3 separate regions of the Homo sapiens genome follow, and regions 2 and 3 are each reported to be linked to region 1. The links are microRNA targets in miRTarBase. Many come from high-throughput screens and were not tested one by one. Region 1 holds a microRNA gene; each other region holds the end of a gene's coding sequence.
The links. Region 1 holds the annotated microRNA hsa-miR-4295 (CAGUGCAAUGUUUUCCUU, at 1,312-1,329, shown strand). A microRNA usually pairs through its seed, bases 2 to 8, with sites in the 3' UTR of a target mRNA and lowers its output. Matches are read on the target gene's strand: a 7mer-m8 pairs with bases 2 to 8, a 7mer-A1 pairs with bases 2 to 7 and ends in A, and an 8mer does both.

Region 2: the mRNA of GRSF1 is a reported target of hsa-miR-4295. The part of its 3' UTR that is shown has no 7-base or 8-base seed match.
Region 3: miRTarBase lists MID1IP1 as a target of hsa-miR-4295. Seed matches in the 3' UTR shown: 8mer at 1,027-1,034.

Annotation. Positions count from the first base shown.
Region 1 is chr10:112,632,869-112,636,068 of GRCh38, forward strand. MIR4295 (microRNA 4295) reads left to right here and starts at 1,302; the gene lies at 1,302-1,386. All of the region lies in intron 5 of VTI1A (vesicle transport through interaction with t-SNAREs 1A), which reads left to right. LOC124902503 (a long non-coding RNA gene) reads left to right here. Exons shown (of 2, transcript XR_007062292.1): 2 at 1-3,200.
Region 2 is chr4:70,821,706-70,824,705 of GRCh38, reverse strand. It overlaps GRSF1 (G-rich RNA sequence binding factor 1), which reads left to right. Exons shown (of 10, transcript NM_002092.4): 9 at 338-412. The coding sequence ends at 387. Among named protein-coding and RNA genes, the nearest start is that of GRSF1, 17 kb to the left of the region's middle.
Region 3 is chrX:38,804,964-38,807,963 of GRCh38, forward strand. MID1IP1 (MID1 interacting protein 1) reads left to right here. Exons shown (of 3, transcript NM_021242.6): 3 at 1-1,569. The coding sequence ends at 535. Among named protein-coding and RNA genes, the nearest start is that of MID1IP1-AS1, 2.6 kb to the left of the region's middle.

The sequences.
Region 1 (3,200 bases):
GTACTTACTTAGTTGTATCTATTAGTATAGTAATGCCTGGGTATTTACAAATAGAAATACTTCTTATTTTGTTGTAAGTTATTTTCCTGTATTTATATTACAGCTAGGGCATTATATTGATTTCTTTTTTAAAAATCCTGTGTGAAATATTTGTTACAAAAAGGTGGTCTGGGCTGGGCGTGGTGGCTCATGCCAGTAATCCCAGCACTTTGGGAGGCTGAGGCGGGCAGATCACGAGGTCAGGAGTTTGAGAGCAGCCTGACCAACATGGTGAGTCCTGAGAGGAGAGGTCTGAAGGAGAGGAGAGGTCTGATGGTGATGAAAGCCACTTTTCTAGGTCTTCGGCATCATCTGGAACACATAGTGGGTCATAGAGAATTACGGGACTTACATAATAATAGTAAGAAGAAGATTAGCTCACATCCTTTGAGTACTCCGCATGTGCCAGGCACTGTGCTAAAACCCTGTAGGTTGATTCTCTGCTTTAAGCATCACCAGAAGCCTGTGAGGAAACCTCCGAATTCTCCATCTTACAGGAGAGAGCTGCTTTTTTCCTTCAAGTATAATGGAAAAGTTGTGGTCCCCAGAATTTCTGTCCTCCCTATGCTAGCACGAAGGGATAATTGATCTTCAGACATTGAAAAGAGATAGCAGGCAAAACACCGGGGCTGGAACAACACAGCAGGATACCCAGGGATCCCAAAAGGAAGTCAAAGAAGAGATTGGAGAAAAGCAGTGGTGAGGAAAAGGGCATTGCCCCCAAAAAGTAATGTCTCCCATGCAGAGAAGACTAGCATTACATAAATGTGTCACTGAGAGAGTTACCTTACCCTGACTCTGTCACCAAATTTTATTAAATGCCTCTCCTATTTCATCCTTGTTGGTGAACTTCCCAGTTCTTCTCTTATTTTATGGGCATAAGAGCTTATACTTTGCAGTTTAGTTAGTTAATTTATTTAAATAGCATTATCAAGTTGGCTCTAGACTAAAAAAAAAAAAAAGTCATGACTCACTCCAGAAAATACCATCAGTTAACAAACGGAAAAAAGGAAAAAGGATCACAGTTAACTCAGAATTATAAAACAATGGTTCTTTTAGGCTTCCTATTTTAGTGGTGTATCCAAACACCTTTTTCCCAGAGTAATAGAGCTTTCTTCCCTTTTGGTTGCAAGCATTATATGAGCAAGATTGGCCACTTTAAAAGTTTTGTTGCATCTTTACTTTCATTACTCAACCTTTATTTCTCCTCAGTCTTTATTCCATAAGAAATATGCTTCAATGGCTTATGCATTTAGAATTGACTTTGTGGAACAGTGCAATGTTTTCCTTGCCTGTGGCAAGACCACTTCGGTTCAAGGCTAAGAAACTAGACTGTTCCTACAGAGACCCTCTGGGTGACTCATCTCTTTTGAGATCCTGATTGTCCATTTTTTGGTTGGTGTTCTGGCAGCAGTGTGTGTTGCCCTGAAGGCACCCTCTCATATGGTGTTGACTACACTATGCTGTGCTATTTAATTCTTGTTTTGGATTGTGCCTCGAGTTTTAAGTCACTTGACAATACAGAAGGTTTCTTTCTCCAAAGATTATCAATATCATACCATTGCCTCTCGGTGGTTATACACACACACACAGACACACACACACATACACACACACACACACACACACACACACACACACGAATTTCATGTTTTCTTCCTTTTGAAACTAAATGTGATCTGTCTGACCTTTCTGAGGAGTCTGCTGCTTTTTCAGATTTATGTCCCTGTGACAAGGTGGTTTGGCAAGCTGTTTGTCTTAATCACTCAGCATCTCCATTAGACAAGCTGTTTAAAAATCTTCTACGTAATTATCTTTTTTGACTCTCACTCTTCCACATTCTTTTCTTTATTGTAAACTTTCTTATGACTTTTTTATATATCTGCCATGTTCTAAAAGGCATTTAAGCCTTCTTACACTGTTTTGTCTGCTTTTCATTAAGTTTGCCATCAATTTACAATCCATGCCCATTGCCTCCTTCACAATCTGAATACATAAACATGCATAATAAATAAACTCTGGGGTTGAATCCTGGACTGAGTGGCCAACATTTTTTCTGTGTCTTCCTTAACTGTTAAAATAGGCAGACAGAGGAGCATTAGAGGAGCTAATTCTAGGAGTCTCCTACGGACATTTGCCGGAGTTTTCACTGCCTTGTTGTTGCCTGTAACTGCAAAGTTCAGAAAGCTGGGGCTGGAGGTGCCTTTATTCATAATATGAGCCAGGCACTGTGCTCATTATTTGGGGGGAATAAAAGATAACACATTTCCTGCCTTCAAGCAGCTTTTACTCTGGTAAAGAGGATAATGCAGGCATGTAAATCTTGTGGAGATGAGACAGCGTGCTGAGGAATTTAAGGAGAAAGATCCCTTTGGTAAAGGCAGATGCAGAATTCATGGCAGATGTAGTGTTTTAGCAGAACCGTGAGCAGTCAGCAGGATTGTACGGATTGGAGATTGGTAGAGGCATTCCAGACAGGGAACCGCAAGGGTCAAAGCTCAGAGGTGGCCAAGTCTAGAATATATGCCAGAGAGAATTGAGAGAGAAGCCTGAAAGAGTATTTAGGCCTAAATTCTGAAAGGTTCTAAATGCTGGCTTAAACCTTGGATTTTTCTTGGTGAGCATGGCCAGAGTGGTGTTTTAGGAAGATTTTAGAAAGATCAAACAATCGAGACGTACTGATGGTTGTAGACAATGAAGACAGGGAAACCAGTTAAGAGGCTTTTGCACTGGTCTTTGTGAGAGGTTACAACAGTAGGAATGGAAAAGAAACAAGTATGAGAGATAATTCAAAGAAAGATTTGAGAAAACCCGATGACTGGTTCAAAATGGGAAGCAAAATAAAGGAAGATTCAAACTGAGTTGATATGTGTGAGTCCCAAGAGACCCACTTGATTCGCCCACATTTAGCTGATGGGAAGAGGCACATAGCAAGAAGCTGTGATTTTTATTCATGCCCACTGAATTTAAGGGATGAGTGAACTACCCAGCATGTAATAGGAAATGGGGAGTAAAACTTGGAATAGTTTTTAACAGATTAAGCATAGAAACAGAGATGATATTTAAAAACCATGAAAGTGAATGAGGATCTCAAAGGAGACTGTTTGGAGAATGTAGGAAAGAAATACAAAGTAAGAACTTGAACTGCCAATAATTATGGG
Region 2 (3,000 bases), not on the chromosome of region 1:
GTTCAAGTGATTGTCCTGCCACAGCCTCCCGAGTAGCTGGGACTATAGGCACCCACCACCACACTGGCTAATTTTTGTATTTTTAGTAGAGATGGGGTTTCGCTACATTGGCCAGGCTGGCTTGAACTCCTTACCTCAGGTGATCCTCCCACTTCGGCTTCCCAAAGTACTGGGATTACAATAGGCGTGAGCCACCGTGTCTGGCCTAAATTTTGTTTTTAATTAGGGAAAGGAAAGGGCAAAGGGTTTGAGTTGCTGTCTGAACTGTGAGAAAAATGGCTGTAATATTTTTCTACCTTTTCAACTTTTTAAAACTAATCTTTCTCATTATCCTCAGATCATAGGTATATTGAACTGTTCCTGAATTCATGTCCAAAAGGAAAATAAGACTCTAGGGGCTCCAGATAATAAGGTAAATTTAAGAGGTAATACTGTGGGCTGGGTGCAGTGGCTCACACCTGTAATCCCAGTACTTTGGGAGGCCAAGGTGGGCGGACCACCTGAGGTCAGGAGTTCAAGCCAGCCTGGCCAACATGGTGAAACCCTGTCTCTACTAAAAATACAAAAATTAACCGAGCATGATGGTGGGTGCCTGTAATTCCAGCTACTCAGGAGGCTGAAGCGGGAGAATCACTTGAACCCGGGAGGCAGCGGTTGCAGTGAGCTGAGATTGTGCCACTGCACTCCAGCCTGGGCAACAGAGCGAGACTCAAAAAAAAAAAAAAAAAAGAGAGAGATACAACTGTGGAAATTATTTGCTATTGATAAACTAATAATCATTCACTCACTAATTTGTAATATGGTAGAAACCATTCTCTTTTTATTTTTCAAATTTTTTTAGGGACTAGGTCTTGCTCTGTTGCCCAGGCTAGCAGTGGTGCGATCATAGCTCACTGCAGCTTCAACCTTCTGGGCTCAGGTGATTCTCTCACTTCAGCCTCCCAAGTAGCTGGGACTACAGGTGTGTACTACCATGCCTACCTAATTTTTTAATTTTTTGTAGAGATGGGGTCTCACTATGTTGCCCAGGCTGGCCTTGAACTTCTGGCCTTAAGTGATCCTGCTGCCTTTGCCTCCCAAAGTGTTGGAATTACAAGAGTGAGCCACCCCGCCTGGCACCATTCCTTTTTAATAAAGATCAAACTAATGATAATTGAAGTGTCAATATAAGGAATGAAAATTCTCGCTCTGGCTTCTCAGATGTGGGGGGCAAAAAAAAAAAAAGAAAATTCTGCTGGGAAATAGAATTAATTATGATATTTTTTCATTTTTTTTAAATTTTATTTTATTTATTTATTTATTTTTTGTGAGATGGAGTTTCACTCTTGTTGCCCAGGCTGGAGTGCAATGGCTCGATCTCCACTCACTGCAACTTCCACCTCCCGGGTTCAAGAGATTCTCCTGCCTCAGCCTCCCAAGTAGCTGGGATTACAGGCATGCACCACCACGCCCAGCTAATTTTTGTATTTTTAGTAGAGACGGGGTTTCTCCATGTTGGTCATGGCTGGTCTTGAACTCCTGACCTCAGGTGATCCGCCTGCCTCGGCCTCCCAAAGTGCTGGGATTACAGGCGTGAGCCACTGTGTCCGGCCTACTTTTTATTTTTTTTGAGACAGAGTCTTGCTTTGTTGAGCAGACTAGATTGCAGTGATGCAGTCTGGGCTCACTGCAAACTCCGCCTCCTGGGTTCAAGTGATTCTCCTGCCTCAGTCTCCCGAGTAGCTGGGACTGCAGGTGCCCGCCACAATGCCTGGCTAATTTTTTTGTATTTTTAGTAGAGATGAGGTTTCACCATGTTGGCCAGGCTCATCTTGAACTAACTCCTGGCCTCAAGTGATTTACCTGCCTTGGCTTCCCAAAGTGCTGGGATTACAGGAGTGAGCCACTGCTCCCAGCCATAATTCCTTATGATTTATATGGTAGCTTTGAGCATTATCTCCATATAGAATTTTTATGCATAATTTCCAACATCATGCTGTTTGCCAAAAAATAGCCACCTTTAGTAGCTATAAATCGTAATAGACTGGATATGTGACTTGCATTAGCTTTTTTTCCCCACTTAAATTTAAACACGTTTTCCATTTTCTCAGGTTACTTTTGTTTTTTTTTTTTTTTTTTTTTTGATATGAAATCTCACTCTTTTTGCCCAGGGTGAAGTGCAGTGGCACAATCTCAGCTCACTGCAACCCCTGCCTCCCGGGTTCAAGTGATTCTTCTGCCTCAGCCTCCCAAGTAGCTAGGATTACAGGCATTCTCTACCACATCCAGCTAATTTTTGTATATTTAGTAGAGACGGGGTTTCACCATGTTGGCCAGGCTGGTCTCAAACTCCCGACATCCAGTGATCCGCTAGCCTCAGCCTCCCAAAGTGCTGGGATTACAGGTGTGAGCCACCACGCCCAGCCATTTTCTGTTTTAAGGTATTTTTAAAAGGATACCATGTGAAACCAGAGTGTATCATCCATAAACACAGTTAATGTGCCACTGTTTCCTTTTCCTAAAATGGCATTTTTTTTTTGCCTTAGGAAGTACATAATTTTATAGTGTTAACCTACCCGTGAGATTTGCTTAATACATCTTGATGTTCCTTGCCTCGATTAAATATATGGTGTCTTTTTTTTTTCCCATAAGGTATTGTAAGTATTACTGTTGTATTGCAGTCACTTTTCTACAGGTAATGGCTCATTCTTTTGAGACACTTACCTGTAATGATTTCTTGAAAACACATGGGGCCAGGCATGGTGGGTTACTCCAGTAATCCCATTACTTCAGGAGGCTGAGGCAGGCAGATCACCTGAGGTCAGGAGTTTGAGACCAGCCTGGCCAAAATGGCGAAACCCTGTCTCTCCTAAAAATACAAAAATTAGCTGGGTGTGGTGGTGCATGTCTGTAGTTCCAGCTACTGGGAAGGCTGAGGCAGGAGAATCACATGAATCTGGGAGGCGGAGGTTGCAGTGACTGAGATGGTGCCACTGCACTCCACCAGCCTGGATGACAGAA
Region 3 (3,000 bases), not on the chromosome of region 1:
CACCTACAACCAGAAGCACTCGCTCTTTAACGCCATGAATCGCTTCATTGGCGCCGTGAACAACATGGACCAGACGGTGATGGTGCCCAGCTTGCTGCGCGACGTGCCCCTGGCTGACCCCGGGTTAGACAACGATGTTGGCGTGGAGGTAGGCGGCAGTGGCGGCTGCCTGGAGGAGCGCACGCCCCCAGTCCCCGACTCGGGAAGCGCCAATGGCAGCTTTTTCGCGCCCTCTCGGGACATGTACAGCCACTACGTGCTTCTCAAGTCCATCCGCAACGACATCGAGTGGGGGGTCCTGCACCAGCCGCCTCCACCGGCTGGGAGCGAGGAGGGCAGTGCCTGGAAGTCCAAGGACATCCTGGTGGACCTGGGCCACTTGGAGGGTGCGGACGCCGGCGAAGAAGACCTGGAACAGCAGTTCCACTACCACCTGCGCGGGCTGCACACTGTGCTCTCGAAACTCACGCGCAAAGCCAACATCCTCACTAACAGATACAAGCAGGAGATCGGCTTCGGCAATTGGGGCCACTGAGGCGTGGCGCCCGTGGCTGCCCAGCACCTTCTTCGACCCATCTCACCCTCTCTCATTCCTCAAAGCTTTTTTTTTTTTTCCTGGCTGGGGGGCGGGAAGGGCAGACTGCAAACTGGGGGGCTGCGTACGTGCAGGAGGCGCGGTGGGGCTGCGTGGAGGAGGGGGCCACGTGTGAGAGAGAAGAAAATGGTGGCCGGAGATGGGAGGGCCCAAGGAACCTCCTGGGAGGGGGCCTGCATTCTATGTTGGTGGGAATGGGACTGGGCTGACGCCCTGCATTCAGCCTGTGCCTTTCCTGGGGTTTCTTTTCTGTTCTTTTCGGAGGAGAGGGCCCGAGAAGGGGCCATACCAGGGCGCGGCGCTGGGTTGCCACACTTGGGAAAGCAGCCCGGAGCTGGGTGCTGGGGAAGGCGGGGCGCGTAGCCTCCCGCCGCCCTGCGGTTGGGCCGGTGGAGGCCCAGGCGTTGCTAGGATTGCATCAGTTTTCCTGTTTGCACTATTTCTTTTTGTAACATTGGCCCTGTGTGAAGTATTTCGAATCTCCTCCTTGCTCTGAAACTTCAGCGATTCCATTGTGATAAGCGCACAAACAGCACTGTCTGTCGGTAATCGGTACTACTTTATTAATGATTTTCTGTTACACTGTATAGTAGTCCTATGGCACCCCCACCCCATCCCTTTCGTGCCACTCCCGTCCCCACCCCCACCCCAGTGTGTATAAGCTGGCATTTCGCCAGCTTGTACGTAGCTTGCCACTCAGTGAAAATAATAACATTATTATGAGAAAGTGGACTTAACCGAAATGGAACCAACTGACATTCTATCGTGTTGTACATAGAATGATGAAGGGTTCCACTGTTGTTGTATGTCTTAAATTTATTTAAAACTTTTTTTAATCCAGATGTAGACTATATTCTAAAAAATAAAAAAGCAAATGTGTCAACTAAATTGGACAAGCGTCTGGTCCTCATTAATCTGCCAATGAATGGTTTCGTCATTAAATAAAAATCAATTTAATTGATTTACTAGCAAAAGTAAATTTTGTGTTCTCTCTGGTATTTCATGGTGGTGGATATTCATCTGTGCAAGTATTTAGCTTTGTTTGGGAACTAGGTACTGACAAAATTTACTTCCAAACTTTATTTCTAATTCAGTACCAAGATAAGACCATACATCTCAACAAAAAGTTCAGAAATATTTAAAATATTTGGGAAGGTACATATATTGTATCTTTCAACCAATTTGGCTAACTTATTGGAGTGCGTAATTAACATTTTGAATTTTTTAAGAAGCTCAAGCACAAGCTAAAGTGTTTTGAGGCATAAAAACAAGGCTGAAATTTCACTTGGTTACTGAGAAGTGAAAATTAGAAGGGAAGACCAGCTAATCCTAGTGCACACACCTTACAGGTTTTTATGTTTATCTGAGTAGACATTTAAATGCATTACAACATGATCGATGACTTCTTTCACTAGTTCCAAAAAGGGCTAAGCTTTGTTGAGCGGCGTCCAGTAATGCTTCCAGTTTTTCAGTGAGCCAGTCTGCAATTGTGGACAGCAGTTCTGATCAAGGCTGCTGTGGAGCCCTTGGGAATGCTTAGGTGCCATTATGATGCTCTGCTGGGATGGTGGGAAAGGTAAAAGAATGTGCTCTGCATATTCTTTATTTCATTATTTGTTTTGGGGTATAAATGTCAGATCAACTTGTTGAAGTCATGAGGCATTCTCTAAGCTCGTAGGGCTTGAATTTAAAATACATATAAGTTAGCGGTCTTAAAAAACAAGCAAAATGTTTTGTGGTGCTGGCGGGCAGGGGCAGTTCAAGTCTATCAGCTTTTAGCAGCAGTGAAAAAAAATGTGGAAGTGTCAAGATGGGTGCTTGCCAGTTGCCAGAGAAAGTTAATCTTTAATTTGTATAAAGATAAGCTAGGCAGCACCAAAAGTAAGGCATACAGCCTCTTGTCTCGTGTCCCCTTTAAAATATCAAAGTGCAAGCAAAAAATAAAGGAAACTGAAAAAAAGAAAAAAGCTGCATGGTAGAAACACAAAGACTTTCAAAGACTTTGGAGCCAGAAACTGTGCAAATCCTCTTGCTACTAATTGTGTGCATTTAACTTCATGCCTGTTGCCACATTAGTAATCAGGCATAAAAATAACTACACTGCTTCATGGAGTTGCAGTGAGAATTAAATGAGATTATATATAAAGTGTTTGAGGCTTAAAATTTTCTTTAGGCACTGCTGAAATGCTTTACAAGTTTCTCTCTTTTTTGATGTTTACAGTGATTACATTTATCTAAGCAACTTTCATACATGTTCAGTTTTAACATATTGACTACTCTGACAAATATGCTTAAAAAAAGCAATAACATTATAGAGTTAATGCAGAGTCCTAAGGATAGTCTAGTAGCCACTAAGTTTTTTCTTAAGTCTTCACTTTAGATGCTGTTATTTCTAGCACAAGCAA